4 linked regions of the Homo sapiens genome follow. The protein of the gene in region 1 interacts with the protein of each later gene in a biochemical or structural test. Each region holds a gene or a part of one and is shown in the gene's direction. Other genes may lie near its edges.

The links.
Region 2: of the proteins of MAP3K10 (region 1) and MAPK9, one has a biochemical effect on the other in vitro, tested with the Homo sapiens proteins (one study listed by BioGRID).
Region 3: the proteins of MAP3K10 (region 1) and MAPK8IP2 form a complex in vitro, tested with the Homo sapiens proteins (one study listed by BioGRID).
Region 4: the proteins of MAP3K10 (region 1) and MAPK8IP1 form a complex in vitro, tested with the Homo sapiens proteins (one study listed by BioGRID).

What each region holds. Positions count from the first base shown.
Region 1 is NC_000019.10:40,208,402-40,215,436, forward strand, and holds part of MAP3K10 (mitogen-activated protein kinase kinase kinase 10), read left to right. Parts: intron 1-701; coding exon 702-818; intron 819-4,403; coding exon 4,404-4,575; intron 4,576-4,674; coding exon 4,675-4,787; intron 4,788-4,987; coding exon of another isoform or gene 4,988-5,115; coding exon 5,116-5,820; intron 5,821-6,248; coding exon of another isoform or gene 6,249-6,265; exon of another isoform or gene 6,266-6,500; intron 6,501-6,568; coding exon 6,569-6,891; 3' UTR 6,892-7,035. UniProt on the Homo sapiens protein: Activates the JUN N-terminal pathway.
Region 2 is NC_000005.10:180,233,052-180,240,086, reverse strand, and holds the end of MAPK9 (mitogen-activated protein kinase 9), read left to right. Parts: intron 1-99; coding exon 100-163; intron 164-1,683; coding exon 1,684-1,755; intron 1,756-3,555; coding exon of another isoform or gene 3,556-3,560; coding exon 3,561-3,703; 3' UTR 3,704-6,944; downstream 6,945-7,035. UniProt on the Homo sapiens protein: Serine/threonine-protein kinase involved in various processes such as cell proliferation, differentiation, migration, transformation and programmed cell death.
Region 3 is NC_000022.11:50,610,768-50,614,488, forward strand, and holds the end of MAPK8IP2 (C-Jun-amino-terminal kinase-interacting protein 2), read left to right. Parts: coding exon 1-12; 3' UTR 13-3,211; downstream 3,212-3,721. UniProt on the Homo sapiens protein: The JNK-interacting protein (JIP) group of scaffold proteins selectively mediates JNK signaling by aggregating specific components of the MAPK cascade to form a functional JNK signaling module.
Region 4 is NC_000011.10:45,888,623-45,895,657, forward strand, and holds part of MAPK8IP1 (C-Jun-amino-terminal kinase-interacting protein 1), read left to right. Parts: intron 1-7,035. UniProt on the Homo sapiens protein: The JNK-interacting protein (JIP) group of scaffold proteins selectively mediates JNK signaling by aggregating specific components of the MAPK cascade to form a functional JNK signaling module. Required for JNK activation in response to excitotoxic stress.

The sequences.
Region 1 (7,035 bases):
TAGCCAGGATGGTCTCAATCTCCTGACCTCGTGATCCGCCTGCCTCGGCCTCCCAAAGTGCTGGGATTACAGACATGAGCCACCGCGCCCAGCCCCCATACCTGTTTTTAAAATTTAAACTCAAATTGCGGTAATTACAATAAAATAAAGAGTTGGCTGGGCATGGTGGCTCACACCTGTAATCCCAGCACTTTGGGAGGCGGATGCTGGAGGATTGCTCGAGGCCAAGAGTTCAAGACCAGCCTGGTCACCACAGTGAGAACTCATCCTTTATATATATATATATATACAGTTTAAAAATTAGATAAATAAAGGTTAAACTCCAATTCCCCCATTGCACAAGCCACATTTCAAGGTGCTCAGCTGCTACACGTAGCTACTGGCGGCCATATTGGACACTGAGGCCTAGGTCCTTGATCCACAAGAGCTCTTGTGCTTGTACTTATTAAACCACAGTCCATTGCTGAGCCTCACCCCAACTTGCTGATTCAGGGAGGGCCCAAGAATTTGCATTGCCAAGAAATTTTCAGCTGATGGTGATGCTGCTGTTCTGGGGCCCACACTCTGAGAACCACTGCATTAAGGAATGAAAAATGGCGGTGTTCCCATTCTAGAATTCCTTCTCTACTTCTACAGAAGAAAATTCCCTTTGGTAATCCCTGGAACCATTTGCTTAGGAAAGCTTCTCTTTCTTTCTGCAGGCTTTGAGCATAAGATCACAGTCCAGGCCTCTCCAACTCTGGATAAGCGGAAAGGATCCGATGGGGCCAGCCCCCCTGCAAGCCCCAGCATCATCCCCCGGCTGAGGGCCATTCGCCGTGAGTATCTCCCAAGGCCCTGACCAGTCAGTCAGTCAGTGAACAAACATTTTTTAGCACGATGTTTATACCTGGCACCAAGCCAGAGTAACAGCAAGAAAGAAGACAGACAAGGCCCTTTTCCTCATTCTTATCACAGGAAACAGATAGTAAACAAATAAGTCAGTAAGCAGGATAATTTCTTTTTTTTTTTTTTCTTTTTTTTTGGAGACAGACAGAGTCTCGCTCTATCTCCCAGGCTGGAGTGCAGTGGTGCAATCTTAGCTCACTGCAACCTCCGCCTCCTGGGTTCCAGCGATTCTCCTGCCTCAGCCTCCCGAGTAGCTGTGGTTACAGTCACACATGACCACGCCTGCCTAATTTTTTGTATTTTTAATAGAGATGGGGGTTTCACCATGTTGGCCAGGCTGGTATCGAACTCCTGACCTCAAGTGATCCACCCACCTCAGCCTCACAAAGTGCTGGGATTACAGCATGAGCCACCGCGCCCGGGCGCAGGATAATTTCTAGTAGTGATAAGTTCTTTAAAGGAGCTCAGGGAAGGGAATAAAAGAGGAGATGTATTAATCGGAGTTCTTCAGAGAAACAGAATCAACAGCATATGTTTAGATATATAGAAAGAGATGTATTGGCTGGGCACGATGACTCATACCTGTAATCCCAGCACTTTGGGAGGATGAAGTGGGAGGATTGCTTGAGCCTAGGAGTTCGACACCAGCCTGGGCAACAAAGCGAGACCCCATCTCTACTTAAAAACAAAAACAAAGGCCAGGCGCGGTGGCTCACGCCTGTAATTCCAGCACTTTGGGAGGCCGAGGCAGGCGGATCACGAGGTCAGGAGATCGAGACCATCCTGGCTAATACGGTGAAACCCCGTCTCTACTAAAAATACAAAAAGTCAGCCAGGTGCTGTGACAGGCACCTGTAGTCCCAGCTACTCGGGAGGCTGAGGCAGGAAAATGGCATGAGCCCGGGAGGCGGAGCATGCAGTGAGCCGAGATAGCGTCACTGCACTCCGGCCTGGGCGAAAGAGCGAGACTCCGTCTCAAAAAAAACAAAAACAAAAACAAAAGAAATAGATGTATTATGAGGGATTGGCACATACGATTATGGAGGCTGGGAAGTCCTGCAATCTGCCTTCTGCAAGCCAGAGGTGCGGGAAAGCCGGTGATGTAGTTCCAAATCAAGTCCAAAGACCTGGCCCAGCACGGCGGCTCACGCCTGTAATCCCAACACTTTGGGAGACCGAGGCAGGTGGATCACCTGAGGTCAAGAGTTCAAGACCAGCCTGGCCAACATGGTGAAACCCAGTCTCTACTAAAAATGCAAAAATTAGCTAGGCGTGGTGGCGCATGCCTGTAATCCCAGCTACTCGGGAGACTGAGGCAGGAGAATCACTTGAACCTGAGAGGCGGAGGTTGCAGTGAGCCGAGATCGTGCCACTGCACTCCAGCCTGGGCGACAGAGTGAGACTCAGTCTCAAAAAAAAAAAAAATTGTCCAAAGACCTGAGAACCTGAACACCAATGTCCAGTGTCTCAGGGCAGGAGAAGATGGATATCCACGCTCATGCAGAGAGCAAACTCACCCTTCCTCTGCCTTCCTAGACAAAAAGAGCTAACTCTCTTTTTGTTCTGTCTGGGCCCTCAGTGGATTGGATGGTGCCCACCCACATTGGCGAGGATGATCTCTCTTTACTCAGTCCACTGATTGAAATGCTAATCATCCAGCAACACCCTCACAGAAATCATGTTTAACCAGCTACCTAGGCGTCCTTTGGCCCAGTCAAGTTGACGCATAAAATTACCCATCACAGAAGGGTTGCGATTTTCCATCTGGAAGCCCTATGGGAGGAGGTGAGGTTTGAGCAGGGACCTTCCTGCTGAGTGAGACAGGCTGAGACCTCAGGGAAGCATGCCCCTGGCGGAGGGAGCAGCAAAGGCAAAAGCTGGAGGTGAGAACAGCATGGGCTGCTTGTTAACCTGTTTGGCTGGAGCAGAGTGAATGGGAGGAGGACATAGGTTTTGTGATCAGGGAGTTCTCAGGGGTCAGATCAGGCAGGGCCCTGAGAGCAGGATAAGAGTCTGGATTTTCCTTTCTTTTTTTTTTTTTTTTTTAATTTTCATTTGACACCTTTGGTATGGATTTTTTTGTTTTTAATTTTTGTTTTTAGTTCTGGGGTACGTGTGCAGGATGTGCAGGTTTGTTACATAGGTAAACGTGTGCCATGGTGATTTGCTGCACCTGTCAACCCATCACCTAGGTAGTAAGCCCATGCATTAGCTATTTTTCCTAATATTCTCCCTCCCCCACCCTACCCCCCAACAGGCCCCAGTGTCCGTTGTTCCCCTCCCTGTGTCCATGTGATCTATTTGCTCAGCTCTCACTTATAAGTGAGAACATGCAGTGTTTGGCTTTCTGTTCCTGCATTATTTTGCTGAGGATAATGGCTTCCAGCTCCATCCATGTCCCTGCAAAGGACATGATCTCGTTCCTTTTTATGGCTGCATAGTATTCCATGGTGAGACAGACGCTCGCTCTGTCTCCCAGGCTGGAGTGCAATGGTGCGATCTCAACTCACTGCAACCTCTGCCTCCCAGGTTCAAGCGATTCTCCTGCCTCAGCCTCCCAAGTAGCTGGGACTACAGGCCTGCACCACCATGCCTGGCTAATTTTTGTATTTTTAGTAGAGATGGGGTTTTCACCATGTTGGCCAGGCTGGTCTCCAACTCCTGACCTCAAGTGATTCTTCTGCCTGGGCCTCCCAAAGTGCTGGGATTCCAGGCAAGAGCCACCGCACCTGGCCTGGTATGGATTTTCTTTTAACTGCCCTGGGGCAGCCCCCAGAGCCATGCGAGCAAGGCACTGAGGGAATCAAATTGACCTTTTTCCCTCTGGCTGCTGTAAGAAATAAAGGTGGAGAAAGCAGTGAGATGATGGAGGCCAGGCCAGGGTGGGGGACTTGGAAGGGACAGATGTCCACAGTCGGGGCTATATGGCAGAGACACGGTCATCGGAGTTTCCTGGTGGGTTGAAGGGTGAAAGGCTAGCTCCCAAGTTCCAACACCTCATTCACCCCAGCACTGTCCCCACCCACAGCCCCCCTGCCCTCTGTCTGGGCACCTGCTTTGTACCAGGCCCAGGAGGTCAGTCCTGCAGGGGACACAGAGACAAATACCCATACCATGGCAGCAAACACTGGCACCAGATAGGTCCAGAGCATTGCAGGTACAGAGATGAAGGCAGCTGACCCCCAGGGAACTAACTACCCAGAGCTGGAGACCAGAAGCGCAGGCAGCCCGCCAGAATGAATGGTGAAGGGTTAGGCTGTGAAGAGGAGGGGAGGCTGGAGGAGTTGGCAGGGAACCGCTCATGGCCTTCAGTGCCAGGCGGAGGAGCTGGAACCTTGTCCTGACAGCAGTAGGGGGCTATGGGGAGATATATAGCAGGGAGGGTCATGACTGGAGTTCAAAAGAGCCCTTGGACTCCCAGGCGGAGGGTGGGCCTGAGCTGGGGGCACTGGAGGCTGGGAGCCCAGTGGGGACAGATCCTCCACCCAGTAACCAAGTGGCTTCTCTGGACCCAGTGACTCCCGTGGACTGTGGTGGCAGCAGCAGTGGCAGCAGCAGTGGAGGAAGTGGGACATGGAGCCGCGGTGGGCCCCCAAAGAAGGAAGAACTGGTCGGGGGCAAGAAGAAGGGACGAACGTGGGGGCCCAGCTCCACCCTGCAGAAGGAGCGGGTGGGAGGAGAGGAGAGGTGAGGTGTGGTGTGGTCATGCCCACCCTGTGCCCAAGCCCCAGCTCCCAGGCTCCAGGCCACAGGACTGAGGTCTCCATCTCTCCCTGGACCCCGCAGGCTGAAGGGGCTGGGGGAAGGAAGCAAACAGTGGTCATCAAGTGCCCCCAACCTGGGCAAGTCCCCCAAACACACACCCATCGCCCCTGGCTTTGCCAGCCTCAATGAGATGGGTAAGAGCCTGGGTTCTTGTAAGGGGGTGGGGGTTCCCTGGCCAAAGGGGTGAGCCTCCTGGGGCTGAGCGAAGAGACCAGGTTTCACTGGGCCAGTGAGTGGAAGGCCTTCCTGGGAAGGGAGATGGTGGCCCCTGGGGCGTGGGGGGTCATTTCCAGGGGCAGGGACCACCCTTCTCTGAGGCTTCTCCTGGAGACAGATTCAAGAACGATGCTCGTGGGTCTTGGTCTTGCTGTTGGAGGGGTCATCGGGGGCTGTCCCTTGGCACAAGTCCCCGTGGGGCCCTGGCCAGCCCTGCAGCGGAGTGATGGCCCTCTCCGGTTGCAGAGGAGTTCGCGGAGGCAGAGGATGGAGGCAGCAGCGTGCCCCCTTCCCCCTACTCGACCCCGTCCTACCTCTCAGTGCCACTGCCTGCCGAGCCCTCCCCGGGGGCGCGGGCGCCGTGGGAGCCGACGCCGTCCGCGCCCCCCGCTCGGTGGGGACACGGCGCCCGGCGGCGCTGCGACCTGGCGCTGCTAGGCTGCGCCACGCTGCTGGGGGCTGTGGGCCTGGGCGCCGACGTGGCCGAGGCGCGCGCGGCCGACGGTGAGGAGCAGCGGCGCTGGCTCGACGGCCTCTTCTTTCCCCGCGCCGGCCGCTTCCCGCGGGGCCTCAGCCCACCCGCGCGTCCCCACGGCCGCCGCGAAGACGTGGGCCCCGGCCTGGGCCTGGCGCCCTCGGCCACCCTCGTGTCGCTGTCGTCCGTGTCCGACTGCAACTCCACGCGTTCACTGCTGCGCTCTGACAGTGACGAGGCCGCACCGGCCGCGCCCTCCCCACCACCCTCCCCGCCCGCGCCCACACCCACGCCCTCGCCCAGCACCAACCCCCTGGTGGACCTGGAGCTGGAGAGCTTCAAGAAGGACCCCCGCCAGTCGCTCACGCCCACCCACGTCACGGCTGCATGCGCTGTGAGCCGCGGGCACCGGCGGACGCCATCGGACGGGGCGCTGGGGCAGCGGGGGCCGCCCGAGCCCGCGGGCCATGGCCCTGGTGAGTGAGGCGCCCTGCACCCAGGTCACAGAAAACCCCTTCTTTCCTCCTCTGCCAGGGTCGCAAGTCCAGCCCAGCCACGACCCCTCAGGCAGCCACCTCCTGCTTCTTGTGGAGGAGGGAGGGTCTGTGTCCCTTTACCGCTCACTCCTGGAGGCATCGGGGGTCTCCAGGGGACTGAGACACAGGCGGCAAACTGATGCCTATAAGGCCAGGCAGGTGCCTATAGCGGTTGTGACCAGCATGACCATCGCCAATTCTTACACAGCCTAGACACTGTTCTCCTCCATCTGTTAACTGGGTGGGAGATGCGGCCATAGCAGTGTTATTAAGTACCCACGTCAGGCACTGTGCTGCTTGTTTTAAGTTATGGTTATTCTATTTGCTCCTCACCTGCGTGGTGAGGCACCATTTTTATCCCCCTTCAGAGCTAAGCCATGCCTGAGCTTAGCCCAGTGCAGGAGAGTCGGGAAGACCAGGGCTTTGGCCCCCGAGGCTGCCGCTAAGCAGCAGTTCCAGAAGGTTGAGGAACATGCCAGGGTCCACCCAGAGGAGCAAGCAGCTGGGAGTGGTCCCAGTCTAGGTCAAGGTCCCAGCACTGCCACACTACAGATGGAAACTGGATGCAGCAAGATCCACGGATTTCTCGAGAGAAACCAGAACTTGTGCTTTTCATGTAACAGCTCTGGGCTTTTTAATGCCACCCTCTGCCCCACCCCACTCACCTCCTCTGAACCTCTCTTACCAGGCCCTCGTGACCTTCTGGACTTCCCCCGCCTGCCCGACCCCCAGGCCCTGTTCCCAGCCCGCCGCCGGCCCCCTGAGTTCCCAGGCCGCCCCACCACCCTGACCTTTGCCCCGAGACCTCGGCCGGCTGCCAGTCGCCCCCGCTTGGACCCCTGGAAACTGGTCTCCTTCGGCCGGACACTCACCATCTCGCCTCCCAGCAGGCCAGACACTCCGGAGAGCCCTGGGCCCCCCAGCGTGCAGCCCACACTGCTGGACATGGACATGGAGGGGCAGAACCAAGACAGCACAGTGCCCCTGTGCGGGGCCCACGGCTCCCACTAAGGCCTGCCCACCACCGCCCGCCTGGGCAGCCATGAATGTAGCGCCCCAGGCCCTGCCCCAGCCCGCCATGCCACAAGGTGGGGGAGGCCCTGGGCAGGATGTTCACTCTATTTATTGGGGAAGGAGGGAGGGGGGGGACACTTA
Region 2 (7,035 bases), on another chromosome or scaffold:
ATAAATAGACTAGAAGTCTTCCAAGCAATTTTACCTTTTTTAGTGCCTCATTTTTTTTTGAGGCATTACTGTTGACTTTACATATGATTTAATTTTTAGCCACCACCTCAAATTTATGATGCCCAGTTGGAAGAAAGAGAACATGCAATTGAAGAATGGAAAGGTAAAGATGGAGCTTATTTTGATCCTTCCTTTTGACATTTCTTCCAATCCTGTAGAGCAGAGGCTTTTCATTTTGTGACATTTCCCTTCAGGAAGGGGCAAGAAACCCTGCGACCCACTTAGCCTCTTTCTCCCCAGTTTCCAGTAGAAAATGAACTTGAAGAGAACAGAGTTAGAGAGGAACATTTATGAATTTCTTATCATTTGCTTCAAGAGGGAAAAATAATATTTTTTTCATGGCTTTTCACATATTGATTTATAAACTGAGCTTAGTAATTGTATCATACTTATATTGATTGATATGTTTTTAAGCCATGTAGTTGTACATATGTTTTAAAATCTAGTTTGGGGGAAATTGCAGATTGAAAATATGCAAATAGGTATTATTACCACTATAAGATTAACCAAACAACCCACAACAAACTATACCTGTAATGAAGAGGTTGAACTAACAATTTTTCATTAAGAAGCAGGATCAGTAGTAACTGAGAACCACAGTCAGAGTCAGTCAACACTGATGAGGGTCATGCCCCAGGGCCATCCTGGGGTGTGGGAGTGCCGGTTACCTGTGTGTGCCCGTGCTCAGCAGTGCATGCACACAGCGTGCTCACTGGCCTCAGTCAATGCTCACTGGCCTCAGCGAATGCTTGCAACGTGCTAATGTTGGTTTATGAATACTGACATTTTAGGAATCCCTCATCACTTACTTCGTAGGTAATTAGTTTTTCTTACAGATGAAAGTTGAGGAAAACCGAAGTTGAAATTAAGAAAAGACTTAGGCCTGTGGATTCATTTCTGGCCAGTGTGGGGGGCTCCTAGCCCACATGTGGGTGCTGGTTACCTTTGGAGAACCCCAAGTAACCACATAGAGAAACATATTCAAATGGGTGTGAGAATATCCAATCCCCTACAGTGTTCTGTGGGAGCCACTCCACTTCATAAAGCCCCCTTATGGATCCAGAACCACCCTACATGTTTTGCTGCCTTACTAGTTGCATTGAAAAAGATGTAATGTAGTCCAGGCGCAGTGGCTCACACCTGTAATCCCAGGACTTTGGGAGGCCAAGTGGGGCAGATGGCTTGAGGCCAGGAATTCAAGACAAGCCTAGCCAACATAGCGAAACCCTGTCTCTACAAAAACTACAAAAGTTAGCCAGGCATGGTGGTGAACACCTGTAATCCCAGCAATTTGGATGGCTGAGGCATGAGAATCACTTGAATCCAGGAGGTGGAGGTTTCAGTGAGTCAAGACCATGCCACTGTACTCCAGCCTGGATGACAGCATGAGACTGTCTCAAAAAAAAAAAAAAAAAAAAGAAGAAGAAGAAAAGAAAAGATATAATGTATCAAAATATGAATATTTTGGTCCAGGTAGACTATATTACTGAATTGACTCTGTCTTACAATTAAAAATAACAAATCGCAATGCCTTTGTTCCAGTTGATTTGGAAGCAGAGTTTAGAGATACAGTGAAACTGTTTAGAAACTGATTAAGCATTTTAACTTGTATTTTTATTAAAGAGCTAATTTACAAAGAAGTCATGGATTGGGAAGAAAGAAGCAAGAATGGTGTTGTAAAAGATCAGCCTTCAGGTTAGTGATTGCTTTAATTGATTGTATGATATTTTTCTTTCCCTATTCAACTTTTTTTTTTTGAGACAGAGTTTCGTTCTGTCGCCCAGGCTGGAGAGCAGCGGCGCGATCTCTGCTCACTGCAACCTCCGCCTCCTGGGTTCAAGCAATTCTCCTGCCTCAGCCTCCCGAGTAGCTGGGACTACAGGCACGCGCCACCATGCCCTGCTAATTTTTGTATTTTTAGTAGAGACGGGGTTTCACCATATTGGCCAAGCTGGTCTCGATCTCCTGACCTTGTGATCTGCCCGCCTCAGCCTCCCAAAGTGGTGGGATTACAGGCACGCACCACCATGCCTGGCTAATTTTTGTATTTTTAGTAGAGACGGGGTTTCAGCATATTGGCCAAGCTGGTCTCGATCTCCTGACCTCGTGATCCACCCGCCTCAGCCTCCCAAAGTGGTGGGGTTACAGGCGTGAGCCACCGCACCTGGCGTCTTTCCCGATTCAACTTTTATAAATGGCAGCAACATGTGAAATGCCAGCCTGGCTAGCATCAGATTTAAAAACCGCTGTATGAATAGCCAGCCTTTTTGGCTTGTCATAGTGGTGGTGGTGGTGGATGACATTTTACTGATGTGCCAGGCACTGAACTTTGTTATAAGCATTTCTCTTTCATCTTTGCAATAACTGCTGTCACCTCCATTTACAGATGAAGAAATTGAATTTAAAGCCTTTTCAATGTTGATAACCCTTTGTACTGGTCCCACCCAAAATGCCAATCTAAGTAAAATGGAGTATGGTATTCTTTTTGAGAAAATTGTTGATATCATTTTCCCATTTTTCTGCTTGATCTACTGATCTTCATAGTGGTGGAAGCCTCTAATGACCAGGTAGTTGTATGATCATGAGACTCTGATATGAGTCGTGTTCACTTACGTCTGAAGGATTCTTCCTGTTTACTAAATGAAACGCTCACGTTATATCATTGTCTCTCTCCCACTCCCACTGGGAAGCATGCACACACATGTGTGCGGATGTGCAGAGAGCACAGCTTACTTTTTATTCTTGAATTTTATGTTCAACATGACGTATGTGTCAAGCATCTAGAGATTATATAACTTCAGCAAGAACTTAGGTGCTTGTTAACTGAGCACACACGTATGACTGCAGACGTCGATCTCAGAGAGTGCATGTTGTGTTTTTATTCAAACCAGACTAAAATATGGATAGTAGGAAGTAGGATAGTTTCATTTGCTTTAAAAGATTAAAATGTCAGTTTTCTGGAGTTATAAAACCATAAAATATACAAGGCCACTAATTTTTTTCCTTTTTCTGGTATATAGTCTTTATTTATTGCAAAAGATTTCTTTGAAAGTTGATGCTTTTTTTCCTGTAGATTTAGTGTTTATGTTATAAATTGTTACAATTCAAGTGTCTGGTGACACTGGAATCCTAGTCAGGCTTAAGCTTTTGTGATACTGCATTTTCAGATAAATATAGCTGTGTCCTTTTGATGTCTGCTTGAAAGCAGCAGGTATTTTTTAAGTAGCTAACATGATTATACATGGCCACATATATGTTTAGCTACTGAGAAAAAAAGAAGAATCTTGCAAGGAAAGACATAGGAATATGGGACTCTTGGCCCAAAGAAAGACTCAAGGAAAAGTTCAGAAAGTCCAGCTGACTGACTTCTTGTCTATACTCATAGTTAGGATTGGGAAACTGCAAAAGGACAGAGCCGAGAAATGGCCTGCAGTCTCGCTGCCTGGATTTGCAGCAATGTCGTGCCTCAGATTTTATTATATTTGGTTTTCTTAGCACAGATGCAGCAGTAAGTAGCAACGCCACTCCTTCTCAGTCTTCATCGATCAATGACATTTCATCCATGTCCACTGAGCAGACGCTGGCCTCAGACACAGACAGCAGTCTTGATGCCTCGACGGGACCCCTTGAAGGCTGTCGATGATAGGTTAGAAATAGCAAACCTGTCAGCATTGAAGGAACTCTCACCTCCGTGGGCCTGAAATGCTTGGGAGTTGATGGAACCAAATAGAAAAACTCCATGTTCTGCATGTAAGAAACACAATGCCTTGCCCTACTCAGACCTGATAGGATTGCCTGCTTAGATGATAAAATGAGGCAGAATATGTCTGAAGAAAAAAATTGCAAGCCACACTTCTAGAGATTTTGTTCAAGATCATTTCAGGTGAGCAGTTAGAGTAGGTGAATTTGTTTCAAATTGTACTAGTGACAGTTTCTCATCATCTGTAACTGTTGAGATGTATGTGCATGTGACCACAAATGCTTGCTTGGACTTGCCCATCTAGCACTTTGGAAATCAGTATTTAAATGCCAAATAATCTTCCAGGTAGTGCTGCTTCTGAAGTTATCTCTTAATCCTCTTAAGTAATTTGGTGTCTGTCCAGAAAAAGTCGATTTATGTGTATTAATTGGCCATCATGATGTTATCATATCTTATTCCCTTTTATGCTATGATTTATTCTATCTTTTGTATTTCAGAAGACATATAATTAAATCTATTTAATAAATAAAAATATATAGCTTTTCTTAGATTTGTGATGTTTGGGGCTGAGAATTATCACGGCTAAAACCAAGACACTTATGTGGACATCTTGTTTTCTTTAAACTGTCTTGTCTGGGATGATTGTACATTCAGCTTTACTGCACGATACAATTTTAAGTTTTGCTTAGTGCTGCTTGAAATCCTAGCTACCTTATCTCTTTTCTTCTTGGTCTTCTAGACTTCTTATGAATTTAAAATGCTACCTAGAACTTCACCTTCTTTATTAGGTGCGTAACACTCCATCTTAATTAAATATGATGGCAGATAGGTTCCTGCATCCATGGCCTAACGTTGGAGTGGAATTTTACAAAATGCTCACTAGAGATCACTGCAGTCATTTCCTAAGTGCTTCCTTTGCCACAGACTGGCCTGGGTCCTTTATTTACCTTCCCTCATTCACTTTCCCTCGGCCAATACCACGTTCTTGATTTTCTTTCTTCACTGGAAGAAAGCAGATAAACTCCTCTTTGGTCTGTTTTCAGAGGCCAGGCTGATTCAGATGCCTGTTGCTATTGTTGCTCTCCATTGTTGGGAGGCATTCCTTTTCACAAGAATGTTCTGGGAAACTCTTCAGAGGACGTGAAGGAAATACCCTGAAGAGTCATGATTAACTATTGACTATTTTCTGATTTAAAACTGCTCACCTGAAATTGATACTTTTAGACTTTACGATCAGTAAATTATTCAGAATTCATGAAGATGCTGAGTATGTTAAGTGTCACTGCAGGAACGGAGCTGTGGTGATCACGTTTTGCCTGCCTGTGCCCATGTCTCTTCCCTTGAGCTTATTCTGTTGCTGATTCATATCTTGTGTTCAATTATTTTGGAAGCTTTTCAGTCGACATTCTGTAGAGTGTGTTCTGAGGAGGAACTGTGATAAGAAAGTTTATTATAAATATTATGTAAAATATATGGCTCTCTCTGCACCAGTTATATCTTATTGGTTGGTCATATCACTGGAAACTGGAACCTTTGATTAGCAAAATTAATATTGAAATAAGAAATAGTTCTTTTATATTGTGTCATTTGGACACTTTCAAGTACAAAATGGTAATAATAACTTGGATTGAGGCGGAAACACCTATTTTATGGCTATCTATCTAAACATCTTAAAATGGCCTTCTCTGTAATACACTTTCTTTTAAAAGACTTCACTAAATCTATCTTTAAAAGGAAAAACAAAAGGGAGAGGTTGAAAATGCGCGAGCTGCCCTGCACTGTGTGATGCTCCCTCCCCGGGAGACGTGGACGGGGGACGAGGCACCCGCAGACGCCCTTCTGCTCACTCGCTCCTCTGTGCATTCAGCGAGCCACTTGCCACAGATGGAGCCCGTGACGGTGTGGAGGGTTTCCTGGAAAGGCCATCTTCCACCAGGTAGAGGCGAGCGTGCCTAGGACAGGCCACAGGGCTCCACAGAAATACCTCACCCCAGCTTCAGGGTTCTCTCTCCTGAGCCTAGATTTGCCAGGGTCTTGGTGCCACGCAAATGGTTTCAAACTGATCTCTATGGATAAATGCTGATGTTGGTTAAAGAACTGAAAAATGTGCTCAACTGTTTCATCTTTTCTATTTTATTTTTGTAATTTATATTGTACACAACCCAGGAAGTAACTATTTTGGACATGTATTTTTATAAACCAGGTAATTTACTATTATCCTGGAATTTAGACTAGGTTTGTTTCATTTGTTGACTTAGTTTCCAGCCAAGAAGGAAACGACTGTCTCCCCCATGTCCAGGTCTCAGTTTCAAGGGCAGAGTCCAGAGAGCAGACAGAGTTCTGTGAGAGCAGGAGAGCAGTCTGGAAACCCTGGCTGTGCATACCGTGTCAGCCGTGGGCCTGGAGATGGGAGCAGGTGAGACGCAGAGCCCCAGTACTGAGAGGAGGAAGCCCTCTTACAGGGCCCCTTGCCCACCCCAAGTCCGTGTCTGAAACACGGAGCGGGTGCTGCTTCAACCCGCATTTAATGCTGTGTAAGTAGCGATAACCACGTACGAGTCTGTCTGGTTGATTTCTAATGTGACTCCTCTGGTATTTCCTCCTGGTAATAAATACAAGTGTGACCTTTCAGATTGCATATCTCAAAAGTAACATTGCTAATGTTTTATAATAAAATATATTATGTGTGTTTTGGTTGGTGAAAATAATACAGACTACATTTTAAAAGATAAATGTATAGCATGTCCAATTTTTGTGTGTTTTTACATGGCAATTAGATATTTCTCCATCACCATCTCTGATGACAGATTTAACATGAACACAGATAGATGATAAAGTGTCATGCTTTTGATCAATATTAGCAAGAGGTTTCACACTGAGAGGCAGAAACATTGCTGTTTGTTCTCTTATTGAAAATATTCTGCAAATTCCTAAATCTGTGTTTTCAAAACTAATGGCAGTAAGTTTTGACTTCACCAATATGCAGGTCCAATTCAGAGTATTGGTGTAATTGTTTTCTCATGAGGCGTGGCCAGGAGAATTCACCAGTCAGCCTTAGTCATGTTACTTAACGTCATTCATGGTGCTTGTGGCTTTGTGCCTGGGATGAGCCAAGTTCATCTGACGTCTGTGTTTGAAGCACTTCAGGCTGTTTAGTACTTAATACCACAGGAGTGGAAGGACACTCAGTGGCTCACTTTCTTTTCTCTGCTTAAAAGGACTAGAAGCATTCCAGAGAGATGAGTACCAGCTGTGTGTGTGTGTGTGTGTGTGTG
Region 3 (3,721 bases), on another chromosome or scaffold:
TACCTGGAGTAGCCTGCCCACCGCTCTGTCTCCTGGCCGTCTGCTCCAGGCGCAGCTGGGGCTGAGGATGTCTCAAGAGGCCACCATGGCTTTGGCAAGGACTGGATTGGGGGGACATGGGACCTTACGCTTGTGGGGGTCTGCGGGCTGGGAACTCTCGTCCTCGGTCCCCAGGGCGCAGCTGTTGGGGCTGCGGGGGAGTGGAGCCCCCGTGCCCCTGCTTTTCCTCAGATCCGTTCTTTCTCTGTGTTGTCCTCCTCCTTCCCTTCCCAGTCTCCCTTTTCTCTCTCCTGGTGTCTCTGCCCCTCTCTGTGCCTGCAAACCTTATCCTCTATTCTTCACTTTGGGGTCAGAACTTCGGGGGTGTGGAGGAGGTGCGGCTCTAGGGACAGGTAATGTCGGCTTCCAAGTGATGCCCTCCTGCCACTCCCCTGCGATTTATAAGGGAATTTTAATTTTTATAGTGAATCTCAAGGGATCATCCCATCCTTGACCACAGGGACAAGAGGGGCCCCCTCGCCCCAGCCCCACCCCACATGGAGCTCAGGGGGAAGCAGGGAGGGGTTCCCAAAAGAGCCCTGCGGAGGCTAGGAGTGGTTCTTGATGCTCACCTGAAGCCCCTAGACGCTGCTAGGAGGGGGGGCCCTCCTGGGCCCCCAATACCCCTCCGCTTGCCGCTGCTAGCGCACCCCTGCAGTCCAGCGTGCATCCACCCCACGCACGCCCCGTGCTGTGTTCCTGGGCCCTGCCCATGGCCTCAATAAACTCTCTGCTTGGTGTGACATTGGCTGTTTCTAGAGGGTGCTAAGACATGGGGCCAGGTGCCCAGGGGCTGCCCATTGTGGTAGGGACAGAGTCCCCAGTGGCGGGAGTGTTGTGGCAATCTCACCCTTTTAGCTCTTTCCGAAATTGTGCCGGGGGTCCCTGCGGTGCTGCTCTGGGGCCTTATCTGAGGTGCCGTATCTAGAAGCACCCTTGGGAATTCTCCCTAGATACACTCGATTGGCCACAGAGGAATCCGAGGCTGTGCAATGGGGTGTCCTTTCCACGTGCACGGACTGGGGGCCAGCACGGCTCAGGTCAGTGTGTAGTGGGGGCATGAACTCCTTGAAGAACAATCTGGCCGGGCACGGTGGCTCACGCTTGTAATCCCAACACTTTGGGAGGCCGAGCCGGGGCGTATCACCTGAGGTCAGGAGTTTGAGACCAGCTTGGCCAACATGGTGAAACCCCATCTCCACAAAAAATACAAAAATTAGCTAGGTGTCCTGGCGCACACCTGTAATCCCAGCTACTCAGGAGGCTAAGGCATGAGAATCGCTTGAACCTGGGAGGCGGAGGTTGCAGTGAGCCAAGATTGCACCACTGCACTCCAGCCTGGGCGACAGAGGGAGACTCCGTCTCAGAAAAAGGAAAAGAAAAACAATCTACTTAGATCTTAAAATGGATATTTAAAAAATTCTCCAGAGAAAGCCAGAAGAAAATAGGTGACTTTTTCACTATGTGCTTAGGTGACTGCAGATGCCCGGCAATGTTCCCTCCCAGGCCCTCCTGGGTGAGCCCGCCTCCCAGGCAGGGGTCAGCATGGCCGGGGTCCCTCTGTCTGAGCCCAGGATTCGTGCAACACCAGGAAGACAACAGTTGAAGGTTCCTTAGTGAGCTAAGGGAAGTATACACAAACTTACTACATAAACATTAGAAAGTGCTGTCCGTAAAAAACACGTCTTCACAGAGCCAACAAGCAGAGAAATAGCTGCCCAGTGTTAGGAAGTGCATCATGATCCAGAGGTTCAGCCCGTGTGCAGCGCACAGACCTGAGGCCCCAGAGAGACCGAGGACGCAGACCAGTGGCACGACGGAAACGCAGAACGTTTATGAGAAAACTTTCCTACTAATTGAGATAAAGCTGTAAAGAGGCAGATAGCCCCACTGGGTGTGTACGTTTGAAACTTGTGCCCCCTGGGCTAGGGCATTCGGGGTGTGGCCCTCAGTCCCCTGTAGCTGCTGCCTGGAAACCGCTGCCACCCACCCACCTCCTCCCTCTGCTCTTCCACTCAGGTGAGAATTCTCCAAGCCCTGCCCTCCGGCGCCCCCGTCCCGCCCCTGCCCGGCCTGGCCCCGCCCCTGCCCGGCCCCGCCCCCCAACGTGTCTTCAGGTCTCTTTCCCTCCAGCCGGCCCTTAGGACGGCTGTTGGACGTGCTCGTGAGTCCTTCGCCTGTCTGCCTTCCACCTCTCTGCAGCTCCTTCTCCAATCTCATGGTCTTCTTGAGCTTGGCCGCCCTCCACGCCCCATGCTGGGCTTGGTCGGTTCTGGGGTCTACCTCTCTGGCTTCATCCCTCCCACAGTTTCGAGGGTTTCCCTGTGCTCAGGCCCCTGGCAGCCGCCCCCTGTGCAGACCACTGGGCAGATCCAGCTGACCTCCAGGGGCACTTCCTCGGCTCATCACTGGGCCGGTGCTCTGCAGAATGAGCTGTGAGAGCCACTGTGGCTGGCCAGAGGGTGCCACTCACAGTCACTTCAGACTCACAGGAGCCTTCGTCCCGACCCCTGCATTCATCTGTGTTCTGTTTTATGTTTTTTCCCAGTCACCTGAGCTGCAGGCCTTGGTCACCCCAGACTCCTCCCTCCTGTCACCCTTATCCTCACCCCAGCACCTTTACGTCTGCCCCAGGCTCCATTTCCCCCTCTTCTGCCTGGATCAAACCACCCTGACTTTCCTGGGTCTTCGTGCAACAGCCTGCTCCGGCCGCTGCCTCACTGCACCTGCAAATCCACTTGCACCCACACCCAGGCCAGGGTTTTTAAACAGAAGCCTCAGCAGATCCCTCTCTCTGGCCAGCTCCCTGTTGAACCAGGAAGCAGGTCCCTGTTGAACCTCAGCATGACCCGCCCCCACCCCTGCATCCCACTTCTGCTCTGGGAGCCTCTGGGTTCCTGGGCGCACCTGCTGCCCTTCCCTGTTTGTCACTGGGTGACCTCCCGTCCTTGTGGGCGCTCCCGGGCCCTGGTCTCGGGCCTTCTGAGGACTTGCTCTCCTGGTAGCGGCTGCTGACTGTGAGCCCAGAGAGCAGGCGTGGCTGTTGACCTTAGGTCCTCCCAGAACCTGGCGGATCGCCTGGCTCCCAGGCAGGAGGCGCTGCATGACGCCTCCAACTTCCGCCAATCTAGCCCAAGGATGGCGTTCTAAATAAAACGCGTTCTACAGAAAAGTGTTTATTGCATTCTTCTTTGAAATAATGTAAGCATAAAAGTAATCTGAATATTGACCAATAGGGTTAATTGATTAAGGTATATTTACCTAATTGAAATATTGGGTAGATGTGAAAAAAAGTTCCAATGTTTGTAATTACACAGAAAATTTCTGTTATGCTATTAAGTGGAAATAAATTTCTGGGCACAGCAGCTCATGCTACTGTGTAATCTTAGCAATTTGGGAGGCCAAGGTGGGCAGATCCCTTGAGTCTGGGAGTTCGAGACCAGCCTGAGCAACAAAGCGAAACCTCTATCTCTACAAAAAAAAAAAAAAAAAAATACAAAAATTATCTAGGTGTGGTGGCACACACCTGTAGTCCCAGTTACTTGGGTGGGTAAGGGAGGAGGATAGCTTGAGCCTAGGAGGTTGAGGCTGCAGTGAGCCATGATCATGCCACCACACTCTGGCTGGAAAGAGCAAGACCCTGTAACCACAATGAAAGAAAAGAAGAGAGAGAGAGAGAGAG
Region 4 (7,035 bases), on another chromosome or scaffold:
GCTCCAGCTGTTTATAGTGGTTGGTTACCTTTGGGTATGGTATGGGGTGAGGGATTTTTACTTCTTATTTTACATACTTTTTTTTTTTGAGACAGAGTCTCACTCTGTCGCCCAGGCTGGAGGTTGGAGTGCAGTGGCATGATCTAAGCTCACTGCAACCTCTGTATTCTGGGTTCAAGCGGTTCTCCTGCCTCAGCTTCCCAAGTAGCTGGGATTACAGGTGCCCACCACCACGCCCGGCTAATTTTTGTATTTTTAGTAGAGACGGGGTTTCAACATGTTGGCCAGGCTGGTCTTGAACTCCTGACCTCAGGTGATCCACCCATCTCAGCCTCCCAAAGTGCTGGAATTACAGGCTCGAGCCACCACGCCCAGTGTCATACTTTTATATTACAGGTTGAGTATGCCTGATCTGACATGCTTTGGACCAGAAGTGTTTCAGATTTCTAATTTTTTTGGATTTTGGAATATTTGCATATGCATAACGAAATAGCTTGGGGATGGGAACCCAAGTCTAAAAATGAAATTGATTTTTTCTTATATATCTTATACATATAGCCTCAAGGTAATTTTATACAATAATTTAAATAATTGTGTGCATGAAACAAAGTTTTGATTACAACCTGTCATGTGGAGTCAGGTGTGGAATTTACAGCCTGTGCTGTTATGTTGGTGCTCAAACATTTAGGATTTTGGAGCATTTCAGATTTCAGGTTTTTGGATTAGGGCTGCTCACCTGTATTTGACTTCTTATTTTATAATGAGTATAGGTTACTTCTGTGTCTTACAAAATAATAAAAGAAAATTCAAAATTAAAGTGATACATGTTCATTATAAAGAAAACTCTAGAAAAGAGAATTTAGAAATTTACACAGTGGAGACATTGGCACTGGGTAGGTGGGACAAAGAGGAGGGGCAGAAGGACAGTTCACGTGGGAGGAACAGCAGAGACAAAGGGGGTTTCATGGACAAGAAGGGAGCGAGCGGCCTGTCTGGGGTGTGTAGAAGGGGAATCGTGGATCTGAGAGACCTTAGAGACCAGCTCGTCCAACCAGCTCCCTCCCCTTATGAGGAAACAAGAGAGGGCGAGTGGCTCCCCCAAGAGCACACAGCAAATTAGTGGCAAAGCTGGGATAGAGCCAGGCCATGGCTGCCTGGATGGTTGCCATCTGCCCCAGCACCCTGCCTCAGGGATGAGAGATGGGGCCACCGAGAGGCTTCTTCCTTCATTCACTCAACAAACGTTTGCACTTTGCCTAGGTCACCAGGGAAACACTGCAAAGGCCCAGACGTGGGCCTGGCCATCATGCTATTGGTGTTGTAGAGGGGAGACAGACAGACAGACGGCTTTACAGATGGGCTGGTCGGTGTGATGATGGCTCAGGTCAAGGGACCCAGGCTCAGCGGGTCTAGACAGGCCCCCCAGAGGCAGGGACATTTCAGCTTAGGCCTGGTGGACGCATAAAAATATCACCCAAGGGTGTCACTGGAGTGAAGGGCGGAGACCAGAGCGGGTGGGCAGGGTGTCTGGTGCCCAGTCTGGCAGGAGGGTGGAGAGCAGGATGTGCAGGAACTTGTAGGCCATGTGACGATGCCGACCTCTTCACCAACAGCCAGAGGAGCTGGCAGGGGGTTAGGAAAGGAATGACAGGGTCAGACAGATCCTCTAGGACAGGGGTGTCCAATCTTTTGGCTTCCCTGGGCCACATGGAAGAAAAATTATCTTGGGCCACACGTAAAATACACTAACACTAACGATAGCTGATGAGCTAAAACACAAAAACATCTCATAATGTTTCAAAAAAGTTTATGAATTTGTGTTGGGCCACATTCAGAGCCATCCTGGGGCTCACGCACCCATGGGCCATGGGTTAGACAAGCTTGTTCTAGGAGGATCACCTGGCTGCTGGGTAGAGAGCGGCCAGGGGACTAGCCATCCTGCTGGTAAGAAGGAGGGACAGGTTCAGGGTGTGAGGAAGAGTTAGGGGGCAGATTAGCCTGCTTGGTGAGGGATACAGAATAGGGAGTGGGGAGGCAGGAGTCTAGGATGATGCTGGGGCTCCTTGGTGGGTGGGGTGTCCAGTGGGAGACCAGAGGGCGGTGGGCAGGGTGTGAAAATCATGTGGGAACCTGCTGAATTTGAGACTGGGGATCATTGGAGGACCCAATTGGAGGAATCATACAGTCAGTCGGTTTTGGGTCTGGAGCTCAGAGGAGAGGATAGGGCTGGGGCCAAAGACCCTGGGAGTCTGAGTTTGGAGGGATGGCCACTGAAGCCTCAGAGAGGACATCACTGTCCAGGGAGACTGAGCAGAGGGCAGGAAGATGGCTGGCCGGTGGCCTGTTCAGCCAACCATGTTTCGGTGGAGGTGGGGAGGTGCTGCTGGAGCTGCCTCATGCCCAGGACCGCCTTGGCCTGGCTCCTGATGGACCTTGGATGTGGAGGCAGAGAGTGTTGACTTGCCTCACACAGTCCGGCAGTGGCCAGGGCAGAATTTCAACCCCAGCTCGCTGATGGCAGAGCTTTAAAGTTCGTCTCTGGATTGCTGGAAATGGGCCACAACACACTTCTAGCTTGGGGCCCCCATGGTTCCCACAAATTGGGTCACAGCCACCATCCACACGTAGTTCTTAATCATTCTATGATGCCATCTTTGTTCCCTGGCCCCACTCTTGTATTCATTCCAAAATAGCAGGAGCGTCTCTGGGTGCTTTGCCTTGTTCCGCCACTGGAGATGCCAGTGGAGAGCTCATGGCTCCTGCTGTCATGTTGCTTGCAGTGCCTCTTTAATAGGCACTGATTTAGCACCTATGGTGTGCAGGGTTTTGGGCTTTGTGCATAGATTGGAGCAAAGGTGGGGAGTCAGTGCCCAGGTGAGTATGATGACCCTGCCCTCAGGAAACTTGCAGCTCTGGGGAGGGCAGGCAGCCCAGCAGCAGACGGGGAGCCCATGCTAGGCTGGCATGACCCAAGATGAAAGTCTGTGAAGGACAGCAAAGGAGAAAAGAGCGCCCCAGATTCTACCCCATCTCACAACTCTGTGTCCATGTGAGTGTTTCTTCCTGTGTGCAATATCATCCTGGGGAGACCACTGGATCATATATGCTGTCTTTTTGCTCATTTTATTAGTTGTCACCTTAATACACAGACTTTATAATGTTGATTCCAAAAGACTGCATCACATTTCATCTGCTGATGGCCACGATGGAACCAGCCCCCTGGTGCTGGGTGACGCAGGTGTTTTCAGTTGTTTGCTGTGATGAGGAATGAACATCCTGTGTGTAACAGTTCTTCTCCAAACAATGTGGGATTGTTTCCTCGAAGCAGTTTCCCAAAAGTCGAACAACTGGATCCCAGAGTTCTTGCAATGTATCAGCATGAAGATGTTTAAACAGATCAAACATGTTATAACCGCAAGTGGGGTTGTCCCTCGGGGCTCATTTCTTTGGTTGGATTCAGTTTTCGTTGGAGATGACCTCCGTATGGAGGTGGTCAGGAAGGGAATTCTGACCCAAAGAACAAACCCAGCCCAACCCCATGTTCACCCAGAGCCAGGTGGTGGGGGTAGAGCGAGGGCCTGAGAGGGATGCTGGGTCTGGCTCATCCCCACCCCACCGTTTCAGCCAGCACCGTCTTCCCAGAGGACCTGACATCCTAGCCCAGACTCTGGTGTAGGTGGGGACACAGGAAGTTGATTGGAAAAGTGGACTAACTTAGAGATTTCCAAGGCAAAAATCCAGAGAGCCCTGGGACACCTGTGGTTAATTCATTCAGCATTTGTCAAGTACCTATTAGGCACCACACATGTTGATCAAAACAGATATGATCCCACCCATATGGATTAACTGACTCCAAGGGGAGGCCACCGCGGGCCGCATAACCCAAAGGTAAAATTACAGTGATACGGAACCACAGCCAGGAGGGACTCCGAGAGCCCATAGCAGGGCGGTTTGGCTTGGTCCCAGAGGTCAGAGAAGGCTTGCAGAGGAGACCATGCTACTGCTTTGGGAGCTGCGCTATTGAAGGAGGAGATAAAGGTGGGAGGTGGGGGGAATGAAGGGAAATGATACTGGTTGGAGGGAAAGGAGGCTTTACAGAGCCTTCAGGCCACAGATGAGAATTTGGGCCCCTTCTCCTAAGGACCAGGGGAAGCTATTAAAGGGCTTTGAGCTGGGAAGAGTGACCAGACCAGATTTGTAATTCAGAGGTCAGCTTTGCTGTCATTACCTGGTGGAGAGTGGCTGGTAGAGGAACCAGAGGGAAATGGGGAACCCACTTAGGGTTGAGCGGCCAGTCAACAGGTGTCCTGAGAACTCACTGGGAGCCAGCTTCGTTCTCAGCACTTAGAGGGCTGCAAAGAGGCAGGCTGGATCCCTGGACCACACGTGCCCTCTGTCACAAGAGAGGCTTGTGGGGCATTGTGGCCAGGACCCAAGGTCAATCAGCTGGCATCCTTACCTCCTCACCACAGCACAGCCAGGAACACAAAGGCCCAAGAATGACATCTGAACAGCCAATGCCTGGCTCAGATTTGGCCTTGCTCAGCTAAAGCCTCAGCACTTTACCACTTAACCTTTGCTTTACATACACTTCTAACTCAGCCTACTACGGAGCTGAAATAGTCCGTTAGAAAGGGCAGGACTGTGGTTGGTGGAAATGTGACCCAGCAAGGCAGGGGAAAAGGGCCTGAAATCAACATCAGAACACAAAAGGCATGTTTGTTCAGGGCCATTTAGAAAAGTGCAGCTCAGGGTGGGGTGGGAGCAGGAGCTGGTATGGCGAGAACAGTGAGGAGCTGGCAGGGCAAAAGCAAGGACTGGGGCAGCAGAGTAGGAGGGATCAGGTGAATGCAGGAACAGGGCCTCAGGTAGAAAGGTCAGGGCGGTCTCCAGAGACCAAACTCACAGCTCAGAGCCACCAAACGTTAATATGGATGACGTCTCAAGGATCACAGCATCCAGGATAGACAAGCAGGTCTGATGGGTGGGCAGGGGCTGCTTCTACAGGAGACTGCTGAAACTTCCAGACCCAGAGGTGAGGGAGGCCGGCCTGCGGAGGGCCGTAGGATTCAGTTTGGAGGCCTCCTGGTGCTAAGGCTGCCATGAGCAGGGTGGATCAGGCGGGACAGGAGGGAACCGCCCTCTTTTCCCCTTCTTCCCCTCCCTTCTCCCCTCCATCTTTTCCTCCCTCCTCCTTTCCCTCCCTTCCCCACATTGACCTTCCATGAGCCTTCAGGGACCAAGTGTCTGTTTAGCCTTCTCTCCATAAAGGGACCCCCCAGGGTTTTAGCTGGGAGGCCAGAACATCTGGTGCCTGGAAAAGAGGAAAGGGCAGAGTCTTGGATGGGGGGTGACTTGCACAGGGTACTCTTTGACCAATCAGTCCCCCTTGATCCTTGGTAGTGACCTCCTACTCACACAAATTCCATTCTGCTAACCCTCACCAGCCCTCTGAGGTGGGTGGGCAGGGATTGGTGGCTTCATCCTGTATCTGGGAAGCTGAAGCATAAGGCACCTTTATGTCTAAGCCTTAGTGTTCCTCATCTGTAAAATGGGAAAAATGGAACAAACCCTCTCCCAAGGTTGTTGCAATGAGGATTAAGAGAGATGCATGGCATAAATGTTGGGGCCAAGATGGGGCAGCTTCAACGTGAAAGAGTCAGGATTTATTTCAGGCCTCCTGCTTCCAAGCCTGATATGGTGATCATTCTTCCATCCTGCCTTACTTATGAGAGGCACCTAAAAAGTCAGACAAAGCATCCCCCTTAACCCACCCCAGTAGAGCCAGGGATCAGGCATAGGCTCTCTGACCCCCAGCCCAGTATTCTTTCTAGCATTGCCCAATTAAAGCCCAGTGCCCTCAGCTGTACAGGAAGAATGCTGCTGTCCTTGCCCCACCCAGACCTATTGTCCAAGGAAGTGGGAATATCAGGTGATGTTGAGGGTGTAGAAGTGAACTGAGAAGCCTCTAACCCAGGTCTAAGCCAGACCCTGCAGGCCCTGCTCCAGCCTGCAGTTCGAGAGGAGCAGGTGGAGGCAGAGGCTGTCCTGTGACAGACATCTAGCAGGCTCATGCTGAGGACTCAGTGTATGCAGGATGAACTCGCCAGCTCTGCCCTCCAGGAGCAAGGGGAGGAAGGGGTCTTGATCACCTGCTGGGTACAGTATAGGGTCATCAATCAGGGTGCTGGATACAGGCCCCATCCACCTTTGGAGCAGCCAGGGGGTGGGAAGTGGGTGTTTCTGAGGGAGGGCTGGCCCTGTCTGCTGCACACACTACTGTACATCCAGGCAGATGGTGACATCAGCCACATGCAAGGGCTGGGAGGGCTTCCTGGAAGAATGAGCTTAACTGAGCACTCTTCCAGCAAGCATGGTTTGAGAGTCTGCCACGTGCTCCCTCTGAGCACTGGGTTTGGCACTGGGGAGACACAGTGCCCACGCAGACTACGCATGGAGCTGGAGGCCTTGCCTGCAGGCACAGGAACCTGCTGCTAGTGGAGAGCCTTGAGGGTTCCAAGTGGGGCGGGAGGGATGATGGCATTTCTGGCAGTTTTGCCTGATAGTGGCAGGTGGAGTGGGATGGTGCAGGCATAGGGAGACTGAGACAGACAGGCCAGTGGGGACATCTGGGAGGGCAGAGGCAGGAGCTGGACTAGGGCTTGGCAGTGAGGAAGCGGAGCCATGTGTGAGGAGACACAGATGTGTGCAGGGGGGCTGGGCACCATGGCTCACGCCTGCAATCCCAGCACTTTGAGAAGCCGAGGCGAGCAGATCACCTGAGGTCAGGAGTTCAAGACTAGCCTGGCCAACATGGTGAAACCCTGTCTCTACTAAAAATACAAAAATTAACCAGGTATGGTGATGCACACCTGCAATCCCAGCTACTCAAGAGGCTGAGGCAGGAGAATCACTTGAACCCAGGTGGCAGAGGCTGCGGTGAGCCAAGATCATGTCATTGCTCTCCAGCCTGGGTGACAGAGCGAAAGGCCGTCTCAAAAAAAAAAAAAAATATATATATATATATATATATAT